3 separate regions of the Homo sapiens genome follow, and all the other regions are reported to be linked to region 1. Evidence: microRNA targets listed by miRTarBase, many of them from high-throughput screens and not tested one by one. Region 1 holds a microRNA gene; each other region holds the end of a gene's coding sequence.

Region 1 (4,220 bases):
CAGGTGTGAGCCACTGCGCCCAGCCACTATTTGAATTCGTTATAGCTTATAGATGTTTCCCTACATTTCCTGCATTACTATCTTTTATATTTAGTTGTCTATTTTATTTTCTTTAGTGATTTGCTTAAATTTCTTTCTCATTTCCTTGTATATAGCTATTTTCTTGGTGGTTACCATAGGGATTATATTTTAGATCCTGCATATATAACATTCTAATTTAAATTTGTACCACCATAACTGCAATAATATATAAAAACTCGGCTCCTTCAAAAGCTCCATTCCCCCACCCTCTCAATTTTTGATGTCACAAAATTATATCTTTATGTATTATACAAAAATATAAACATGTAAGTATTTTAAATTCATTAGTCTCTTAAATTATGTACAAAACAAAATTGGAGTTACAAAGCATAATATGAACTTTTATACAAATTTAAATATATATATATTAACCTCTTAAAGCATGTAGAACACGAAAAGTGCAGTTAAAAAGTATTGTTACAATAATATAAGCTTTTATAATTTTCTATGTATTTTCCTTTATTAAGATCTTTATTTCTTTACACAACTTCAAGTTACTGTCTAGTGTCTTCTCATTTCACTCTGCAGGAGGATTTCTTGCAAGTCAGGTCCAATGGTAACAAGCTCTCCCAACTGTTGTTTTCCTGGGGATGTCTTAATTTCGCCCTCACTTTAAGGACAGTTTGGCTGGATATAAGATTCTTGTTTGATAATGTTTTCTGTTTTTGTTTTTCTTTAGCACTTCGAATGTCAGCCCACTGCCTTCTGGCCTGCAACGTTTCTGGTGAGAAATATACTGATAATCTTACTGATTATTCCTTATAAGTAATATATTGATGTTTTTCTGCTGCTTTTAAGATTCTATCTTTGTCTCCACCTTTTAAAGCTTTGATTATAATGTATTTCAGTTTATGTCTTTTTGAGTTCATCTTCCTTGAATTCTGTTGGATTTCTTGAATGTTTATATTAATGTCTTTTATCAGATTTGGAAAGGTTCTATCCGTTGTTTCTTCAAGTTTTCTCTTCTCTTTCTCCTCTCCTCCTGTGACTCCTTGATTGTGTCACACAGGTCCCTTAGACTCTGTTTACTTTTTTCAATTCTTTTTCCTTCTGTTCCTTGATTTCCATTGTCCTATCTTCAAGTTTACTGACTGTTTCCTTTGCTTGCTCAAATCTTCCTTTGAATCGCTCTAGTAAATTTTTTATTTAAGTTGTTGTACTTTTCAGCTCCCAATTTTTTTTAACTTCTTGTGAGGTTTCCTATCCATTGAATTTTTTTCATTTTGTTCATATATCATTTTCTTGACTTTCTCTATATCTTCCTGTAGTTCTTTGATCATTTAACACAATTATTTTAAAGTCCCTCTGTAGCAGATCCACCATCAAGTCATTTTAGGGATTTCATATTTTCCTTTGGACAAGACATAGTTTCTTAATTTTTTGTATGAATTGTGATTTTGGATCTAATAACATAGTAACTCTAAAAATTAGATTCTCCCTCTTACTGAGAGTTTGCGGTTACTTCAGTCAATGATTTTGCTTTTTATATTGTCATAAGAGGATTCTGTTGTAGGCTATCTCTGTGCCAAGAATCAGTCTGAAGTGTAAACTTAAAGACTGTCTTTTCTAAGCCTGTGCCAAAGGAAAGGCAAGGCACAGGCTTAGAAAAGACAGTCCTTAAGTTTACACTTAGTAACTTAGTCATTTTCTGATTGTCACCATATGTGCAGTTACTTTGAATGCCCTACTTTTTAATGTCTAGCTGTCAAAGGGGGAAAAACAGAAAAATAAAGTAGGAGAAGGGCACTGGCCCTTTTAATCTTCTGGAAGTCACTTCAGCCAGCAGGGAGGGGCTTGCAATAATGGATAGAGGTGCAACAATAACCACTCACCTCTTTGCGTCCATCTTTGTGACCAGAAACAGCAATCAGCAATCAGAGCAAAGATTGCCGATATTTGGATGACAGGTCCTTTTTTTGCCCACTCTGGTTCCTGCATGCTCTGTGCAGACTGCTCCAGTAACATGTGCACAGCTGCCTGCTACAGGGGTGACTGTGGGAAATGGGTAGCTACTACTGTGGTTAAGTGCTGAAATTGACTGAAATTAATCATAATTCGCCATGCAAGCTTTCCCCTAGAAGTTGCAAGCCTTTAGTAGATGTCAAAAATCCAAAATAGTTATATATCAGACAGATTCTGCCAGTACAATTGTTCTCTAGGTGGGAAGACAGATTCCTGGTGCTTCCTACTCCACCATATTTCTATAACTATTTCTCCATAATGTTTTAACTACTGTAATTTTGTAATATCCTTTGAAGTCAGGAAGTGCAGGACCTCCAGCTTGTTCTTTAGATTGTTTGGGCTCTTTTTGGTTCTCTGCGGTTGCATATGAATTTTAGAATTGCTTTTTCTATTTCAGAAAAAAAAAACAGCTATGGGTATTTTGATATGGATGGTATTTAACCTGTGGATAGCTTTAAGTAGTATGGACAACAATATTAAGTCATCTAATTCATGAATATATATGTCTATTTATTACCATCTTTATTTTCTTTAGAAATGTTTGTAGTTTTCAGAGAACAAGTCTTTAGTCTCCTGTTAAGTTTATATTTCTATGTATTTTTGATGCTATTTTAACCCAATTTTTAAAAATTTCCGTTTCAGATTTATGTTAGTATATGAAATCACAACTGATATTTGCATATTGATTTTGTGTCCTGCAACTTTGCTGAATACATTTATTAATTCTAGTAAGCTTTTTTATGTGGAATATTTAGGATTTTTTACATTCCATTTCTTTATTCCCTCTTTGCTCTATAAAGACAACACCATAAGGGTTTCATATGCTAAACATTCAAAAACACTTCTTTAAAAAAGCTATCTACTATCAACTGCCTCAAAGCCATCATTGAGATATTAGCTGAATATAACAGTTATTACATCATTTAATTTCAGTGTCAAAGCTTTACTTTCTTCATATAAAAAAAAACTATTTGAGTGTCTTTTTAAATAAATACACATGCATACCCACACATATCCTAGGCCGTTAAATTTTAATTGGCCTGGTATACATTAGCCATTTAGGGGGTTCCCGCTCCCAGAGATCCCATATTAACATGTTTGGAAAAGTCTGGTATTTGCATCTTTGTAATGCAGTGGCTATAGACAAGCAAAAGTTAAAGTCTACAGCTACAAATCCAAACCTATGGTACACCAAAGATGTATAAGCAAAGGCCTTGCTCAATTAGTCTAAAGATTTATCTGGGCATAGATTTTTATTTTCTGTCACCTAGGCTGGAGTGCAGTGGTGTGATCTCAGCTCACTGCATGCAACCTCTGCCTCCTAGGTTCAAGCAATTCTCCTGCCTCAGCCTTCCGAATAGCTGGGACTACAGGAGGATGCCACCACACCTGGCTAATTTTTATTTATTTATTTATTTTTTTGAGACGGGGTTTTACCACGTTGGCCAGGCTGGTCTTGAACTCCTGACCTCAGGTGATCCACCTGCCTCGGCCTCCCAAAGTGCTAGGATTACATGCATGAGCCATCGTGCCTGGCCCATAGACTTTTTTCTTTTTTTTAACACCTATTGGATTGCTAAAATTACTTATGTTTAAATATTTTAACTCCTCTGTGGAAGGACACTACTTTGATTTGTTATGTTCACTCTGACTGATATCTGAGGCTGGCCTCAGGGGTCTGCAGATCTAGTCCTACTCAGCCATTTAAGTAGCTGCATAATCTTGGGAAGATTTTTAAACTATTTCATTAGATAGGGATTTTCATATATAGGTATATAGATATTGATATATTTAGATGGTTAAATGCAGCCACAGGGACTGCAAATATTCTTTTCTACTATTTTATAATATTTTATCATATATGTCTGAATAATTTGGTCACAGAACTTTATTTTCTTGAGTTATTACAGATTCCTCTCTATTAGTTACATATCTCATGCAGTGCTCTTGGGTATATCTTTCTAATATCTACTAAAGTCCACTGCCTATCATCTTCACTGTGACAGCTATCATCTCAGTCATCATTATCATCAGCTTGAAATTTCTGTTTGCTTTTTAACTTTCTATCTTCTCCATTAGAATCTATGCTCTACAAAAGCAAACCCTGTCCTTGTTACGATTCTATTCCTTGTGCCTAGGACAGTACATGAAACACATTAAAATGAAATGATAAAAAA
Region 2 (4,110 bases), not on the chromosome of region 1:
TGTCCTGCTGGTCTTTGATGTGACAAACAGGAAGTCCTTTGAACACATCCAAGACTGGCACCAGGAGGTCATGGCCACTCAGGGCCCGGACAAGGTCATCTTCCTGCTGGTTGGCCACAAGAGTGACCTGCAGAGCACCCGCTGTGTCTCAGCCCAGGAGGCCGAGGAGCTAGCTGCCTCCCTGGGCATGGCCTTCGTGGAGACCTCGGTTAAAAACAACTGCAATGTGGACCTGGCCTTTGACACCCTCGCTGATGCTATCCAGCAGGCCCTGCAGCAGGGGGACATCAAGCTAGAAGAGGGCTGGGGGGGTGTCCGGCTCATCCACAAGACCCAAATCCCCAGGTCCCCCAGCAGGAAGCAGCACTCAGGCCCATGCCAGTGTTGACTCTAGGAGAGAAAGGGTTAAAGCAGTCCCAGCCTTAGCCCACCTGGTGGGATGGGGAGTGTTAATATCTCTCTGGAGGACAAATGACAGAAGGGTTCATATAAACAGTATCCTGACACAGTCATGCTTCCTGGATTTTGGAGTCGAGGCTTTCTACAGAAAAGAAAGTTCTGATGGCCAGGCATGGTGGCTCACGCCTGTAATCCTAGCATTTTTGGAGGCCAAGGACAGTGGATCACCTGAGGTCAGGGGTTCGAGACCAGCCTGGCCAACATGGTGAAACCCTGTCTCTACTAAAAATACAAAAATTAGCCAGGCGTGGTGGTGCATGCCTGTAATCCCAGTTACTCCAGAGGCTAAGGCAGGAGAATTGCTTGAACCTGGGAGGCAGAGATTGCAGTGAGCCAAGACTGCGCCACTGCACTCCAGCCTGGGCAACAGAGTGAGACTCTGTTTCAAAAAAAAAAAAGAAAAGAAAAGAAAGGCCTGAGAGACCAGATGTGCAACTTCCTGTCCTTGAGCCTCAGTGTCCCTATCTATCGATGGGGCTCATAAAAGATCCCACCTTGAAGGGAGGTGGTGACCACAAATGAGACAGTGGACAGGATGTGCTCACCCAGAGCCTGCCGCGCTGTGAATTGAATGACAAAAGCTCTCATTCCCACTCCCTTTTTCTTGGCTGCGATGTGGCCACTCTGGCAGCATTCCTGGGCTCAGACACTGAGAAGCCAGCGTCAGGAAGCTGATGCATGGGCAAAGGCAGGTGCGGGGAATTCCAGGGGGAGCTTGGCTTGGAGGCTTCTTATGTCCTCAGGCTAAAATGATTCTGGGCATGGGATTAATATGTGACGTCAAACCCAGGGTTGCTGGCCAATGCCCCCCCGACCAGGCCCAGGGGCTGAAAAATGGATGTTGGAGGCTGGGATGAACATGAATGTGTAGCAACTATGTTGGGCACACAGTGGCCACTGTGATGAGCCACCAAGATCCCCCTTTCTGGCTGGGGAACCCATCAACCCTCTCCCCAGCTGCTGGAGTGCCACTGGATGATGGACTTCAGCTTGCCCCACTCTCTGGGAAAGGCCCTCCCTTCAGGGCAGCTTGTATCCAAAGTTCATCTCCTGGGGGGCCTTAAAGGACTCCCTCTTGCCCCAGCTCTGGACAACTCTGAAAGTCAAAACCAACTTTATCAGTCTCTGTGGGCTTCATTGAGGACACTGTTGTGACATCATAGCCAAGTTATCCCCTTGCCCAATCCTGCTTCCTTTTCTTCCCCAAACAGGTATCCATTTCAAGAATATCCCCTAATAAACATCTGCACACTCATCTCCATCTCAGAATCTGCCTCCTGGTAACCTAACCTATGATGGGAACTGCTAGGCAGGGAATGTCCTGGGAGCAATTAGGGAAGGCTTCATGGAAGAGACACTGTTTATGTTAGGCCGAATCTCAGCAGGTGTAGGGCTTAGTGGGTATCATTGTGCTGTAGCAAAAAGCACAGCCACTTTGCTGGGTGCAGTGGCTCACGCCTGTAATCCCAGCACTTTCGGAGGCCTAGGCAGGCAGTTCACTTGAGGTTGGGAGTTCGAGACCAGTATGGCCAACACGGCGAAACCCTGTCTATACTAAAAATACAAAAATTAGCTGGGTGTGGTGGCTCATGCCTGTAATCCCAGCACTTAGGAGGCTGAAGCATGAGAATTGCTTGAGCCCAGGAGGCAGAGGTTGCAGCGAGCCACGATCCCGCCACTGCACTCCAGCCCTCTAACTTGGGTGGCAGAGCAACACTCCGTCTCATAAAAAAAGAAAAAAGCATAGTCACTTAACTCTCTTTTGTGACCTTGAGCTAGTTACTTGGCCTCCTTGAGCCTTGGTTTCCTCCTCAGTCAGTAACATGAGACTGATAATCCCTCCCTCCTAGGGTTCTTAGAAGGTTTTCAGAATGAGTTTCTTAGCTTCCTCCCCATGGAGAGGGGGCTGAGGGGTCTTCCTGTGCACTTGGTCCTGCCTCTTTTTTTTTTTAAACCCATAAAAATTCACCTGTTTTATTTTGTGGGGGGTGGGGAATATCCATTACCTCAGACATTTATATTTTATTTGTATTACAAACAATCCAGTTATACGTTTTTATTTCTAAATGTACAATAAATTACTGTTGACTGTAGTCACCCTGTTGTGCTATCAAATGTTAAATCTTATTCATTCTATTTAACTGCATTTTTGGCTGGATGTGGTGGCTCACGCCTGTAATCCCAGCACTCTGAGTGCCGAGGTGGGCGGATCACCTGAAGTCAGGAGTTCGAGACCAGCCTGGCCAACATTGGTGAAACCCTGTCTCTACTAAAAACACAAAAATTAGCTGGACATGGTGGCATGTACCTGTAATCCCAGCTACCGCGGAGTCTGAGGCAGGAGAATCACTGGAACCTGGGAGGCAGAGGCTGCAGCGAGCTGACACCGTGCCACCGCACTCCAGCCTGGGCGATAGAGCGAGACTCCATCTCAAAAAACAAATAAATAAAAATAAAATAAAAATAAAAACTATGTTTTTGTACTCATTAGCCATACCCACTTCCCCCCACCACTACCCTTCCCAGCCTCTGGTCACCATCATTCTACTCTATCTCCATGAGTTCAATTGTTTTAATTGTTAGCTCCCATAAGTAAGTGAGAATGTAAAAAGTTTGTCTTTCTGTGCCTGGCTTTTTTCACTTATAATTCCAGTTCCATCCATGTTGTTGCACATGACCTGCCTCTTCTTTTTAAACATCCTTATTCATCCTTGTGACGTGGTGAGGTTGGCACAATCATCCCCATTTCACAGATAAGAAAGCTGGGGCCAGGAGAGGAAAATTACTTGCTTTAGGGTATCTTTTCATTCCTTCATCGTTTTTTTTTTTTTTTCCTTAGATACAGGGTCTCGCTCTGTTGCCCAGGCTGGAGTGCAGTGATGCAATCACACCTCACTGCAATGTCGACCTCCTGGGCTCAAGTGATCCTCCCACCTCAGCTTCCCAAGTAGCTGGGACTACAGGTGCACTTCACAAAGCTAACTTTTAAATTATTTGCAGAGACAGGGTCTCACTATGTTGCCCAGGCTGGTCTCACACTCCTGGCCTCAATCAATCCTCCTGCCTCAGCCTCCCAAAGTGCTGGGATTACAGGTGTGAGCCACTGTACCTGGTCTCCTTCATCAATTTTCTTTCTTTTTTTTTGAGACAGAGTCTTGCTCTGTCGCCCAGGCTGGAGTGCAGTGGGGCGATTTCGTCTCACTGCAATCTCTGCCTCCTGGGTTCAAACGATTCTCCTGCCTCAGCCTCCCAAGAAGCTGGGACTACAGGTGTGTGTCACCACACCAGGCTAACTTTTGTATTTTCAGTGTTTCACCATGTTGGCCAGGCTGGTCTCGAACTCCCGAACTGAGGTACTCTGCCTGCCTCGGCCTCCCAAAGTGCTGGGATTACAGGCATGAGCCACCGTGCCTGGTCCGTCAGAGGCTTATTATTATTACTTTGAGGTGGAGTCTTGCTCTGTCACCCAGGCTGGAGTGCAGTGGCGCAATCTCGGCTCACTGCAACCTCTGCCTCCTGGGTTCAAGCGATTCTCCTGCCTCAACCTCCTGAGTAGCTGGGACTACAGGCGCACGCCACCACGCCCAGATAATTTTTTGTATTTTTAGTAGAGATGGGGTTTCACCATGTTAGCCAGGATGGTCTCGATCT
Region 3 (4,110 bases), not on the chromosome of region 1:
GCCGAGGGCGTGGCGGGAGCCTGTCCTCGGTTTTACAGGCCGGCTGGGGAGCTGCGTTGGAGGAGAGAGCCAGGGGCTGGGGCCCGGTGATGGAGCCTGCCTTGGGGAGTGCATGTGTTGGAGAGAGGTGGGAAGCAGATAGGATAACCCTGACCTGAGCCATGGAGACGCAAGGACAGGACTGGTAGACGGGTCAGTGGGCAGCAACTTAAGACTGACCTCGCTTGAGCCTTTGCCTGCGAACGAGGTATAATACCCACCTCGGGGGCTTGAGGATCAAATGAGGGGCTCCACCCACGGCAAAGTGTCACTAAGCGGGATGGAGGAGGATGCAGGAAGAGGAGTCTGGGAGGACCCGCTCTGAAAAGGATGGAACTCGAGAGCACCATTTTCAGGGACGAAGATAAGCTGTTTATTTGGGGCAGGCTGTGGGGAGAGCTGTGCAGCAAACAGCCACCCGGGGCCCAGGGCAGAGGCCTTCCAGGCTGGCTCGGGCACTTCTGGGTCCCATGTCCCTGGTTTTGCATCATCCATACCAATCACTCCATGTTGCTATGTTCCTTCACCAGAAGACTGGGGGCTCAAAAAGGGCAGGGCAGCCCTCACTCACCAGTCTCCCCAGCCTCACCCAGCTCAGCACAGGGCACCAGGCAGGGGCTGAGAGTGCTGGGGTAGGTGGGTGTGGTCAAACAGCTTGGAAAGAGTTTGGCCTGCTCATTGCATTCCCCTCAGCTCATCCTGGGGATGTCTGCTCATGGGAGAATGGCAGAGGGATCCCCAACAGTCATTCCTGATACTCCTCTCCCTGTATCATGTCAGCACATAGTAGGTGTGGCCTATGTATGGCAGATTCATTTCTGCCCCCAATAGGATTTGCTGTAGTTTGGATGTGTGTCCCCTCAAAATCTCATGTTGAAATGTGATCCCAATGTTGGAAGTGGGGCCTGGTGGGAAGTAATTGGGTCGTGAGGGCAGATCCCTTATGAATGGTTCAGCACCATCCCCTTGGTGATGAGTTCTTGCTTAGTTCACACAAGATCTGGTTATTTAAGAGTCTAAGACCTCCCCTTCTCTCTTACTCCTGCTCTCACTATGTGATATACTGGCTCCCCATCACCTTATGTCATGATCTTAAGCTTCCTGAGGTTGCACCAGAAGCAGATGCCAGCACCATACTTCCTGAAAAGCCTGCAGAACTGTGAGCCAATTAAACCTCTTTATAAATTACCTAGCGTCAGGTATTTCTTCATAGCAATGCAAGAAGGCCTAATACAGAGTTTGACTTCATTTATTTATGCCTTCATTCACCAACTTTCACTGACAGCTACTCAGTGCAGGCCATGTGCCAGGTGATGCTGGGGACAGATGCTGTCCCTGACCTGGAGAGGTCATGGCAGGGGTGCAAGAGCAAGGGCAAGTGCCAAGGGCTGAGGGGCACAGAGGCAGCACCCTCACCAGCCTGCAGTGGGGGTTGGCGGGTAGAAGGCTTCCTGGAGGAGGGACCAGGGTTCCCAATTGCACAGCCAAGTCATGTCTTCTTGCTTGGAACCAGGAGAGGGGAAGGAGGCTCCCCTTAGGATGTGTCCCTAGTTCTTGGGTAGAGAAGGCGCCTCTCTGGAAATACTACTATAATTACCCCTTTTCTTTCTTTCTTTTTTTTTTTTTTTGAGACGGAGTCTTGCTTTGTCGCCCAGGCTGGAGTGCAGTGGCGCGATCTCCGCTCACTGCAAGCTCTGCCTCCCGGGTTCACGCCATTCTCCTGCCTCAGCCTCCCGAGTAGCTGGGACTACAGGCGCCCACCACCATGCCCGGCTAATTTTTTGTATTTTTAATAGAGATGGGGTTTCACCGTGTTAGCCAGGATGGTCTTGATCTCCTGACCTCGTGATCTACCTGCCTCAGCCTCCCAAAGTGCTGGGATTACAGACGTGAGCCACTGCGCCCGACCTCCCATTTTCTTGACTAGATGCCCCACCTACTTTTTTTTTTTTTTCCCTTGAGATGGGAGTCTCGCTCTGTTGCCCAGACTGCAGTGCAATGGCACGATCTTGGCTCACTGCAATCACTGCCTCCCAGGTTCAAGTGATTCTCCTGCCTCAGCCTCCCGAGTAGCTGGGATTACAGACGTGTGCCACCATGCTCAGCTAATTTTTGTATTTTCAGTAGACACAGGGTTTCACCATGTTGGCCAGGCTGATCTCGAACTCCTGACATCAGGGGATCCACCCACCTCAGCCTCCCAAAGTGGTGGGATTACAGGCGTGAGCCACTGCGCCTGGCCTGCCCCACCTACCTTAAGTTCAAGGAGAAGCCATCTCCCCAGGACCCAGCCCCAGGCCTGCACCACAGATGCTCAAAGACTTGGAGGAACTGATGAATTCATTTTAATCACAGAAATTTGCCTGGGCTTGAGCAAACTGTGGGGACTCAATAGATTTGGAGGCCTCCTCTCCCTTCTGAGAGGCCTGCCTGCTTCCTGCCCTGATGAATCCCTAATTTCAGTACAAACTGAGGAACTTGAAAAACATCTGTGCACTGGGACCGCCCCTCACAGGAGGGCTGAAAGCAGCACAGCTGAGTCAGCGGCACATTCAGCAGGCGTTCAGTGGGGAAGCAGGAGACAGAGGCGGCGCTCACAGGACCCGCTCCAGGCTTGTCACAGCCACACATCACAGCACTTTGGGTTTTGCCACAACAGAGCAGCTCTGAGCTCAATCCTTGCACCTCAGAAGTGCATTTATGATTAAAATCATGCTCGACATGAAGCCCTGTTATGATGTGCAGTTTAAAAAGAGAAACGGGTCCAAATCAGCACCAACAGAGCCCCCCAGGGGGCTCCAAGACTCGCCCCAGAGACAGCAGAAGGACCCCATGTGCGCGCTGATCTGTAAGAAGGGTGGTGGATGCAGCAGCAGGGGGCTGCGTCCAAAGGCAGCAGGTGGGGGCCTCTCATAGTGTGACCCTGGGCAGGCCACTCCCCTACCCCGGTACCCTCACCTGAAAAATGGGACAGCAACACAATGAGACAACAGAGACTGTCTAGAATATAAAGAAAAGAATGAAAAGGTCCATCCCAAGGGCAGCCTGGTGGGGACGGGGACAGGCAGTGGGGGGAGGCTGCCTCTGGAAGACCTGTCCCAGCAGAATCAGCCCCCACCTCTGCCCTGCCTTCCAACCTTTGAACCACCAGGCAGTAGACACATTCCCCTGGGAAACAGAATTTGCAAGGCAGGTGGAAAGAGCAGCACTCACACTGGCTGTGACTGCTGAAAAATGCTCATTGGCCCTTCTCGAGGACTGAAAGGAGATTCGGAATCACATTTAAAATTAACCCGTGACCCACTTCCTGTAAAACTGAAGATCACCCTCTAACAGCCCTAACAAACAGGCTCTGGCCGTCTCCTGACCCTAACCCGGTGGAGCAGCTGACTGGACGCAGTGACGCCACCACTGAGGTTCTGCAGGGTGGAGGCGGCCAGGCTGGCTCACTGCATGAGGTGGACGGTAGCTGCCTTGCGGATGAGCCGCTCGGTCAGGGGCGAGTTGGGCTTCAAGGCATCACGCTCCATCAGAAGGCTCCTGTGGAAACAGACACAGAGGTCCTGTTACAGAACCTTCTAGAGGGATGTGGGGCCTGGTGGTCCCTTGGTCCCAAGGCAGAACACAGGCAGGCTAGACTGCGGCACTGAGGGAACAGCAAGGGCCAAGGCCCAGGGGCAGGAGGCCTGGCCTCAGTTTGGGGAGAGGTGAGGATGGGAGGGCACAGACCTCCAGTGCAGGAAGCCACACCCGAGATGGGGCACAACAGGTGGCAGTGGGGAAAACCCAGGTTTGAAGAGAGAAGACCCAGGTACGGTTTGAGGTAAAGACCCTGCTGTGGACTGAATGTCTGTGTCCAGGCTAAATGTATATGTTGAAGCCCAAATGCCCAAGGTGATGGTATTAAGAACAGGGCCTCTTGGAGGTGATTAAGTCATGAGGGTGGGGCCCTTGTGAATGGGATTAGTGCCCTTATAAGAAGAGATAGGTGTGGTGGCTCACCCCTGTAATCCCTGCACGATGGAAGGATGAGGCAGGAAGATTCCTTGAGCCCAGGAGTTTGAGTTTACA

What was found. Region 1 holds the annotated microRNA hsa-miR-4438 (CACAGGCUUAGAAAAGACAGU, at 1,638-1,658, opposite strand). A microRNA usually pairs through its seed, bases 2 to 8, with sites in the 3' UTR of a target mRNA and lowers its output. Matches are read on the target gene's strand: a 7mer-m8 pairs with bases 2 to 8, a 7mer-A1 pairs with bases 2 to 7 and ends in A, and an 8mer does both.
Region 2: the mRNA of RAB42 is a reported target of hsa-miR-4438. Seed matches in the 3' UTR shown: 7mer-A1 at 584-590 and 7mer-A1 at 719-725.
Region 3: miRTarBase lists TTC38 as a target of hsa-miR-4438. Seed matches in the 3' UTR shown: 7mer-m8 at 3,385-3,391.

What each region holds. Positions count from the first base shown.
Region 1 is chr2:213,755,560-213,759,779 of GRCh38, reverse strand. It overlaps MIR4438 (microRNA 4438), which reads right to left and starts at 1,713; the gene lies at 1,621-1,713. All of the region lies in intron 10 of SPAG16 (sperm associated antigen 16), which reads right to left.
Region 2 is chr1:28,593,730-28,597,839 of GRCh38, forward strand. It overlaps RAB42 (RAB42, member RAS oncogene family), which reads left to right. Exons shown (of 2, transcript NM_001193532.3): 2 at 1-1,720. The coding sequence ends at 388. Among named protein-coding and RNA genes, the nearest start is that of RAB42, 3.5 kb to the left of the region's middle. RefSeq lists an enhancer at 1-264.
Region 3 is chr22:46,292,260-46,296,369 of GRCh38, reverse strand. TTC38 (tetratricopeptide repeat domain 38) reads right to left here. Exons shown (of 14, transcript NM_017931.4): 14 at 2,362-3,579. The coding sequence ends at 3,486. It overlaps GTSE1-DT (GTSE1 divergent transcript), which reads left to right. Exons shown (of 1, transcript NR_024009.1): 1 at 1-1,227. Among named protein-coding and RNA genes, the nearest start is that of GTSE1-DT, 2.3 kb to the left of the region's middle.